2 separate regions of the Homo sapiens genome follow, and region 2 is linked to region 1. Evidence: fine-mapped expression QTL. A gene starts in region 1. The other region holds a variant in brackets. All regions are shown on one strand. Distances are from middle to middle. Region 1 holds the start of MIR137HG (MIR137 host gene). Region 2 has its middle 180 kb from the start of LINC01776.

Evidence for each region. PIP is the estimated chance that this variant, and not a neighbour inherited with it, causes the effect.
Region 2: its variant is the best candidate, but not a certain one, in a credible set for the expression of MIR137HG in fibroblasts (GTEx, PIP 0.85).

Annotation. Positions count from the first base shown.
Region 1 is chr1:98,046,442-98,051,831 of GRCh38, forward strand. MIR137HG (MIR137 host gene) reads right to left here and starts at 3,252. Exons shown (of 5, transcript NR_046105.1): 1 at 2,937-3,252; 2 at 78-186.
Region 2 is chr1:98,385,773-98,391,162 of GRCh38, forward strand. No RefSeq gene overlaps it. Among named protein-coding and RNA genes, the nearest start is that of LINC01776, 180 kb to the left of the region's middle. The variant T/C (reference allele first, on the strand shown) is at 2,956.

The sequences.
Region 1 (5,390 bases):
TGTCTTTCCAGTGAGGAGGGAAGATGTGGCAAGGCTTTTTGGGCACAAGTGGGAGTGACAAGTAACCTTCAGTTTACCTGGTGCTCTCCCAGTGCTTTCCTCTGCACTTCTCTGCTTGGTACCCAGTCTGGTCTCGGCCAGTCCACTCTAGGTGGTATGATTGAGTGCCATGGCGGCCAGAGAACCCTGTAAGAGACGTGAATAGTTACCCACACAAATACAAATATATTTGCCTAGACGGCTTTGGGAAGAAGTGAGGCTTAAATAAAGATAGGTCATGCATGGGTGAAATTTTCAGTAGTGTGTTTTGGAAATGCACTTTTCTCAAGCCCAAGATCATGGAAAATAAACACTCATTCAATTTACTACTTGAAATCAAATACTTATAGATGTACAAAAATAGGCGTCTTTCCTTTGAAGGCCTTATAGCTATACAACATAATGATTTTTAAAGAAAAAAAAAAGCTTGAAGGCACACAGTAATTAAACCCATTTTCCATAGTGTCAAAACTCACTGAGTTGACAAGCTGGTAGACTTTCTATGATTTAAGCATCATTTTATATCACTACAATGTTTAATTTCATAGCACACTTTTAAAATATATACTATAAATGCATTGCTGTACAGCTGTTGTGGACACCTCTACAGAAAAACCTTTGAAGCTCTGTGTTCATAAATATTATTTTAAGAAGAAAAAGCCAATAAAAACTCATTTGCAAAGTGACTGTAATTTTGGCATTCAGAGAGAGAATCTCTGTGATTCTTTGATGATCAATATGGCTCTTACTGGAAAAGCTTTGTCTTAAGATCCTGCAGTGGATATTCTGATAATGGGGGTTTATTGTTCACTAAATAAAATGGACAAGTGCAACGTCACTACCCAAGACATGGTGTAGCTTCCTTAGAAAGTTCTCAATTTGCTTTCCCCTTTACTCTCAAATACATGAAAGTACATCCATGTAAGGGGAATGGGGGGGAATATGGAAACATGGCAATAGACATTATGATTTCCCAAATTATGTAAGTGCAAATAGCTCTTCATCAAGGAGTAATTATATAACAGAATCTCTCCCACTACCACAACTCATCTCTAACTGACCTGGTTGCAATTTAAGGTGCTTAGGTTGTGTTTGCTCTTATTTTTTTAAAAATTATAATACTTCTCCGGGCACACCAACTCATCATTTTCTTGACATGTTACTTACAGATGGAAAAATCAACATGAATTCTAGGTTTTATGAATAGATGTTTAATATATAATGTCTGAACCTAAAATAACTAGAAAGAAAACCAATATAGCCCAACTACCAGACTGTTTTACATTATTTTCAGATAACTCTTAAGTACACCACTTACAAAAGGACAGATACCAATAAAACAAATAAATAAGCACTATTTTCTGTTGTTACCTAACATAGGTATAAAGTGGAGCTTTTCTCTGGTGCTAGACAAAAAAAAAATTCAGAAAGCTGACAGGTTCTCTTCAGCTTGAACTCCTAGAAACAAAAGCCCTTAGGGAAAGTAATGCAATAGTCTATGAGCAAAGTGTACATTTGCTTCTGCACTCTTCTATTTAAATCTCAACTAATATTAAAAGGAAAACAAGAAACACACTATACAGATAGGCTTGGATTTAGTAAATGGAACGTTATAAACTCAAAAGGATGGTCAAGGGAGGCACACACACACACACACACACACACACACACACACACCCCAATACACAGGGCATCAGAATCACAGCATAAATACCCACACAGCTTTTCAATGCTTTCCAAGTAGTCTCCTTCAGTTTTGCTTCCTCACAATTAAAATAAAATATATACACACACTGACCCACAGACTCGCACGCTTTAAGAAACTAGAACAACGCAGTTGATATGCTTTCTTTCTACCCAAGTAGCAGTGCCAGCCTTTTCCCTACCTACCCAATGTTCCACCAGCTTCAGCACCTGGACGAATGGACAGCTCAACCCGGGCCGACTGCCGGCAGCACTCGCAGCAGAACTGACGCTCTGAGCTCTAACCAAAGCTCTCTCGTGCTTGAGCGGGGCAGCCTGACTTACGAGAACACCATTTCCTACGAGACCACTGCCGCTGGGTGCATATTCAATTCAAGCCTCCTTAAGCTGTCGGATTTCCCCCACCCATCCACCCTCCCCCCCTTCTCCACCCTCCACACAAAAACAAAAAAGGGAAAAAGCCCAATACCATCAGGGCGTTTGTTGATCAACTTACACTTCGCTTTTGAATATTTAGATACTGCTAGCGGAACAATATCAGCGGAGGCTTAGGTCCGCATTAAGTACCTTTGTTCATCGACTCCTGCAAGCCATGTTTATTAGAATCTACATTTCTCTCGCGCCCCAATAACTAGAGGTGTGTTTTGCGGGCAGGGGGCTTTCAGCACCTTTTGATCTCTCAAGGCCACCGCGACTGATTGACGGTTCCCAGTACTTTCCTATGCTATCCCCCATACTCCAACACCCATCCCAGTTAATCGCTTCGCAATTTGCAACCAAAAATACATAAAGAAACGCGACAAAGCAATGGGTTTGAGGAAATAAGCCAATTAAGCTAAAGCTGAAATGCCTCTCTCTCTCTCTCTCTCTCTCTCCCCCCCTTCTCCCTCTTTCTCTTCCCCCTTGACTCCCTCCCTCTCCCTCTCTCCTTCCCTCTCAAGTAGAAAGGGGGAAACACCAAGGAGAGAGAAAAAATCGGGAGGAGGGTGGTAGTCGACTCTTACAGTCAATGGAAAAAGAGTATACACATCTTTACTGAATAATACTCTCGTTCTCAGACAAAAAGAAACACATTTTTCGATGTAAACATAGTCTGCCTCTGCCATACATCCTACATCCTTTACGTTTGCTGAGATTTGTCTTGCTGTATGGCAAAGTAACTGTCACAAATCCATCTCGATTGAAGTGCTTACCCTCTAAATCCAGGTTTCAAGCGGAACTCCAACTGTGTGTAGAAGCCAGGGAGTCATCTGATGTGCAGTGAGGTAGGCTCTGGGCAGTGTGAGCTGCTTCTTCTCTCCGAGTGCCGGGTTACAGTGTTAACAAGCCTTGGGAAGGGACCTCGGCGCCTCGCGCTGGCTGTGCCCCAGTGCCTTCGCGTGGTGGCGGCTTGCTCATGCTTCCGAGGAGTCCCAGGCGATAGCCTTCAGCTGATGCGAGCTTCCAGAAAGGAGTGGGGAAGGGAAAAAATCATCTAATGCAATCAAATCGATCTGATCTACACCATCTGTCGCCTGCCACTATACACAAACGTTAAAATAGGAAAACGGAAAACACTGACAGCCGAGAGGGTTGGTCTGCAAAGAGTTCATTTTTAGCAGAGCATAATTCGATATGGTCGGCGTACAGTTACAAAAGCTGCTGTTAACCATCCAGTAGTGGATCCCAAACATGCTAATGGTGGATTAATTGAGGAAGATCTGACGTGCAAGCTTCATAGTCTCTTATTCATGACTTCCCAATGGGAAAGGACCAATGCCTTGTGGGACTATGGTAACATACAGTCAAAAAGCTGCTAAGAAAATGGCTGTGTGTTCACAGCACCTCTCTCTGATAACAAACATATGTCGACTAAAATGGTTTAGTAGAATGGGAGGGGGTGTTGGAGAATAAAATTTTCTTTCCCCGTGTAAGCAATCCCCATTTTCTTTTCTTAAAGAAAAGCAAAAACAGATATGATCTCTTTACCATAGTGGGGGGAAAAGGATGTTTTAAAAGGTTTTTATCAAGATCAAACTCTGCCATATAAAAGAAACGGAACACTCCTGTGCAGCAATTCTTTAAAAAAAAAATCTATTCTCATTTTTTTCCTTACTGTGATCAAAGTAGATCCATAGCATGTGCAGTATACAGAAACTCAGTCCAGTTAATCCCACCAGGATTGATTCAAGGTTGTTTAATGCCAGGTACCCTTTTGACTTCTTAAAACCAGGATGCCTTTTGGGGAAGGCATTTTGTATCATTTAAAATTGACATAATGAACATTAAGTATGATTGCAGTGAGGAGATGAGAAGAGTTTTCCTTTCTAATTCTGTAATTACTCTCTCTAGCCAAAACCCCTTTTGGTCTGTTTCCAGTCTTCCCAGATCAGTTGATGGGGAAATATAGGGATGGGGGAGGGAGTGGAAATACCGAGAAGGAGGGAAAGAGAGTGTGGATTATCGATAGCCAATAAATTCTATTCCACTTGTAATAGAAAAATATATAGCAATAAAAGAGATAACTCACTAATTGTTGATCGTGATTTTAAGTTTAAACCAGTTTTAAAAAATAATGTTTGATACATGGAAAGAAGACATATTGCAAACAATGGGATGACTGCCCCCCACCCATTTATAGTTATAGGTTTAAAAAATATTGAAATAGGGTTTATTATCTAGATATGTGACTATCTTTTATTAAATATATCTCAAAATTCCATATTTCCTCTGATTTTTGTCATCCATTTGAACACTGAAAACTATGGTCACTTTGATTCTGCTGTCTTTTCTTTGGTAACATACATTACATAAATTCTGTAGTAAACAATTAGTGTTCAGGAAAATTCTAAAGATGAATGTGTCTCCTAAAACTTTGATAATCTCTTTAAGGAAAAAAAAACCTAACAGTTATGAATTAAATTAGTCTAAAAATATAGCTTGAAGACAAATCAAACAATTTACCTGATCTTTTGTTTCAATATACATTAATTAAGCACTCTTTCCAACCTACACAACATTCCAGGGTCATAGTCAGATATTCAAGTCTAATAGTTCAGCAGCCTTTGTTGTCATTCGTGTCAAGCTATTGCCCCCTGCAGGTTAGGCTGAAAGTGCAGGCAGAATTTGGCCAAGTCCTCAGGAAATTGATGGTACACAAGTTACTCAGTCTCTCCCAATATTTAACTAGAGTCAACTTTTTAAGTTTGCTTTCATTATGGTTTAAACTATTTATTTACAGATAGGTAGTACATTAAGAAAAATGCTCTTTAAAGATGTGACTTCAGTTTTTCTTCTGAGAATTTAGCTGCATTGAGTAAACCATCCACTTTGTTGTGATACAAGGAGCATTTTGACACATTTAGTATAGTTTTCTTCATCTTCCCTTATCCTTATTCCATAAGATCCAGCAAAATTAAAAAAAAAACATATGTAACAGGATTGGAATTATGAATTCTCATAATAAATATATAGCCCTGGGCAATTTGATATCAGTATGCTTTTGGTAGACTCAATGAAGTGTGTGCAAATCAAACCATTTCAGATTCTCCCTGCTCCTGATATGATGAGGTCAATTACACCATTTATCTTGATTATAAAATTAAACATTATTTCAACCTCCATATTCCTGCTATACTATCATCCTTTCCCACAATCAACTTTTCCAA
Region 2 (5,390 bases), 340 kb after region 1:
TTAGGCCAGATGTTACATGGAAAAATGAGTTGCTGTTAAAGATGAGATTTTTTTTACATATAGGCCAAGTAAGCTAGCCCTTGCCTTGATCTCGGGGGCCCATCAGCTTAACATAGTGATTGAGCACACTGCCTATTAGTCATACTAGTGAGTACAAATCCCAGCTCCACCACTTGCTAGCTGTGTGACATGAGGCAAATTATTAAACTCTATTGTGGCTCAGTTTCCTCATTTGTGAGAAGGGATCCAAATATGATATATCTCATAGAGTTGTCATGAAGCTTCAAATGCCTAACACATAGTGTGTGCTCCATAAATGTAAGCTAGTATTATGATCATCAATCTGGAGTGTCCCTTTGCCAGTTATTTTGTATTCAGAAGGCCTCTGAAAAGATATATACATTAATGAAAAAACAAGAGCATGAGCTGCCTGATTCATTTCTCTGATAATTCTGTCAATTTATCACCCAGGATAGGGGATACTGGGGGGAAGAAAAAATGAGTCCAGCTGTGTGGAAGCAAGAGTGTGAGTTCTTCTCCGCAAGGGCTTTGCTATATACAAAGCAGTATGATGCAGGAGATAGCATGAGTCTCTCACCAACATGCATTTGAGGGCAAGCCCTGCCTCTTGCGGTGGTGAGACCTTCTACAAATTACTTCATCTCTCTAATCCTTGGTTCACTCAAAAATAAAATATTCTAAGAATTTAAATGAGATTACATATGTAAAATACTTAGCTACAAGTTAGTGCCCAATTATTATTATTACTCTTGACAGATAATTGACTTGTATCAGTCAATTTATCACTCAGGAAAAGGATATTGCTCCTTTTTTTCAGCAATAATAATAATTGCTCCTTTTTTCAATAATAATAATTATTATTATTACTTTTACCTTGGGAGATAAGATAGAGTGGAGATACATGGGTAGTTCAGACAGGAAGAGACCAGGAGCCATAGTATGAAGGCACAGAACACATTTAACATGGTTTACAAAAAGGGCAGTGGTCGGGGTGTTCATACACCAGCTGGGCCCTTCCCACTATCTATCCCTCCCAGTGAACTGCCAACTGTCATATTCATCAGTCAGTCAACAAGTTTTATTGAGTCCCTCCTACAGGCTGGGCACTTTTCCAGGTGCCAATTTTAAAGCAGTGAACATGACAGGCAATAGTCCCACTCTTAGTTAGCTTACATTCTGTGAGGACTCTTGGATAATCAGGTGAGCGAAGAAGCAGGGAGGATAATTTCAGATTGCAAAAAGACAATAGGTTAGATAGGGAGTGCTGTGGGAGAAGGTACTGTAGCTAGAGGCGAAGAAAGGCCCACTGAAGAGGTAAAATTTAGCTAGGCTAGAAGGAAAAAGGGCCAGCCTCATCAGGTTCTCCAGAAAGGGCATTCCATTTACAGGGCTCTGCATATCAAAGGTCTTGAAGTGAAAATGATCTTGGCCTCTTCCCAGGCCCATGTGGCTGCTGCATGTAGGAGACCATGCTGAAAAGGGTAGCAGAGCCCAGGGCTAGGAGGGACTTGTAGGCCAAGCAAGGGGCGTGGATAGCAAGTGCTGCATGAAGCCAAAAAGGGCTTGAAGCAAGGGAGCAAGGTGATGGATTGACCATACAGTCTCTTGCCATGAACTCAAAAACTCACCAACCAGTAGCCATGTAGACTTTATAAGACTTGCATCCATTTATTTATTCTTGACAACAAACCAGTGAGGTGACTGAAGTAGGAATTTTGCTCGCCTAATTTTGTAAATAAGAAAACTAAGGCTCAGAGTGTCCAAATTTCCTAACTTGATGCCTCATCCAGTCAGAGTAAAATCAGTTAGTGGCAGAGGTATGGGGTCCAACCTAGGTTTTGGGATTCCAATCCTGACTTCTATCTCTTACAAGGAATTCAGTTCACTCTTCCTATTTATTCTACTAAGTATTTCTTTAAGTTTTGATTATTTTTCTCCTGTTTGTTTTTCACACCTTATGATTCCTATTTGATTTCCCATTAGGTCCTGCCAACTAAGGGTAAACTCCTAGGATGTATGTGTTAGGCTTCTGTGAGTGGTAATAACCACAGAGCTACAAGAATCACTGAACGCATAAATATGACATGACTCTTCTTGCCAATCCCCTCGTGGAAGTGCGTGCTGAGCTTAAGGAGAAGCCTGGTGAGGGGTTCAGACCGGCAATGTAGACAGAAGCATTTGATCAACATCTACAAAGATTTCATGGGCCCTTCCAGACCTTTCCACAAACTGTGCTCATTAAAACAACAGGCACAGTAATTTGTGTTATATGCTAAGTGCAACATTTGTGATTCAGTATTTGTGGTATTTACGGTTTTCTACTTTACTGGACCAAAAATGCACAGAACCCCGAATAACAGCAGTCAAAGACAGCTTTACATATGTGCTCTGACCCGGAAAATGAAAGGAGTTTCTTAAAATTTAATGAGAGGTAGAAAGAAACACTGGTTCTTTTCAAAATTTTAGTATTGACAGTACTAGTAGTGGTACTTGTAGTGATTTAGCTATAAAAGTAAGATATACTTGGGTGTAATGGTAAAGATTTAGGGAAATTGTGCTGTATTAATCAAACAAAATAAAGAAAATGTTCATTAACTGCATAGTTTGTAAGCGCCACTTTTTTTTACTGTTTGTTAGGAAGATGGAGGCATGCACTGGAAACACTAATTCTAATTATTACTGTAAGTGGGAGTTTCTGGCACAAGGTCAAGAAATAATAGGAGAATGTGTGAATCTCAGTATTGAGCTGCAGTAAGCCTAATCATTTGAATAAAGCCAGTTGTTTTTTCTTGGACCGTCTCTGGGTTGTTCAGTGTTCTGGATGAATCTAACACAATCAGGCTGTTCTCTGGTGTATAACCACTTCCTGCTGACTCAGGGCAACTTGCTTCCTCTGCCGTTTATTAAAATGAAACATTCATATTAAAACCCCAT[T/C]TTTTAGTGATGACCAAATGTACATTAGTAATGACATTATTAAAACTGTTTTGTTTAAAATGAACTTTCACACTAGCGTGTTGCAAAGCGGCACAAACAAATCTATGTGATTTCACTAGAGATGGTTTAAAAAGCTTGCAGATCTTTCTGGCACTATTACAGAAGGGGATTTGATGTCTGTTTCAGGAGACAATCTAAGTTTTTATGGCCATAAAAAAATGAATACTGTTCCAGTACTCCACATAGAAAATAATGTATAATTTATAATGTTTCATTAACATGCAAATGTGAAATAGTGTCTTCTATGTTTATGTCTACTAATAATCTATCAAATATTTAGAGGCATAGTAAAGAATACTAAAATATTTTGTCTCAGCACTGTTTAAATAGATTTTTCCCTCATTTTTATTTGTTTGTTCATTTATTTATTTATTATTTTTCACTTTTGAGATGGAGTCTCACTCTGTCTCCCAGGCTGGAGTGCGGTGGTGCAATCTCAGCTCACTGCAACCTCCACCTCCCGGGTTCAGGCGATTCTCATGCCTCAACCTTTCAAGTAGCTGGGACTAAAGGCACATGCCACCAAGCTTGGCTAATTTTTTTATTTTTAGTAGAGACAGGGTTTCACTATGTTGGCCAGATTGGTCTAGAGCTCCTGATCCTCAAGTGATCCTCCTGCCTCGGCTTCCCAAAGTGCTGGGATTATGGGTATGAGCCACCTTACCCAGCCCTGTCCATATATTCACATATGCAAAAATGTGGGAGAAGCAGATAAGCAAATAATCAATTTAGTAATGGTGTTTGTAAAATAAGACAATAACCCGAATCTTTATATAGTTCTTGTAACTTTTCATAACATTTTCACATAGGATGTCTTGGCCAGCCACAGCAACAATAACATGAGGCTGATATTCTCCCCATTTCATGGATGATAAAACTAAGCCAATGGTTAACTGGATTGTTTTGTAAATATTTGGCCACCCAGTCAGCACAATGTCCTAGGAGTCATGCTTTATAATTCACTGCACCTCATTGCTAAACAGAATCTTAGGTATAAGATCAGAGTTCCAAGGTTTTAATAAATATATTTGGCTAAGACCATTACATATAGTTTGCACTGGCTATAGAATCTGAAATTATCAGTTCTATTTCTAGAGTGCTGAGAGTCTCCATTGGTTCATCCTACAAATATTCACTTAGCAAAGCATTATGCTCCTATGTGCTCAGCATTCTTACCAGGAGCCTGATGGGAACCAGAGATGAATCAGACACAGACATGACATCAACAGTAGAACAGTAGAGTCCAGAAGACAAGCTATGGAAGAAAATTACTGTAATAAAAGTAGAATTGCATCAGAAGCCATTAAAAGGGTACAGAAAATGTTTAAAGGAAAGAAAGAATGCTTTCAGATGGAGAGAGGATTTAGGCAGACTTCACTGAGGACTTATGGATCCAGGATCCAGTGATTGAAAGAAACCATTGAAGATCTAAAGCCCAATCAAGTGGTGTTTTAAGAAGTTTAATCCCAGAGGCCATGTGGCAAACTAGAGGGAGGAAGGACGGTTAGCTGGCTATTAAAGTATTTAGGAATAAGGGAACAAATTCCCAAACAAAAGGATGATGGAAATCAATAGAAAAGAAATACTTCAAAGTCAAAATTCTGGAAAAATTCTTACAACCAAACACTGACTATTTTCAATAAGGCATCAGTGGGGTGTCAGTAACGACTTGGAGTTCAGTCAGGATTATGGCAGAATATTGAATCCCCTCCTTCCTCTCTTAGTGTGTTCTGGGTTTTATTTTTACTTTTGTTTTGTAGAGACAGGGCCTCGCTATGTTGCCCAGGCTAATCTTGAACTCTTGGTGTCAAGACATCCTCCCACCTTGGCCTCCCAAAGCACTGGGATTACAGGGCTGAGCTACTGTGTTCTGGGTTTTCAAATTTCTCTACAGCGACAATTTTATTATTATTGCCTTCAGTGTAGTTTTTACGGAATAAGTCTGGTTGCATTAGGACATTTAAAAGAAATAAATCTAATACAAGTGAAATTATTCTTACAAGTTACATGAATGACTTGATACAGCCTATGTCTTCAAGGAATTTGGAGTTGAATGAAAATGTCTTTAATCACTGTACTGGGATCTCCATATATTTGAAGTGAAATTAAGGACTGGGTTACCTTTTGACAGTATAACTCCTCAACTCACAAACTTTGGCTGTTACTCCTTTGGCCAAACCTGGAGACTGACCTCCATTACAAATCTTAAGCATATTAGAAATAATCTAGCAAACTGAAGTGTAAGTAAAGGAATAGAGAGATAGCTACAAAGATTATACACATTAAAAATATCACAATGGCTGAAAATCCTTCCAGACTGCATTTTGAATCTGTTTCAAAGAGAGAGTACTTGGGTAATATTTGAAGCCACAGGT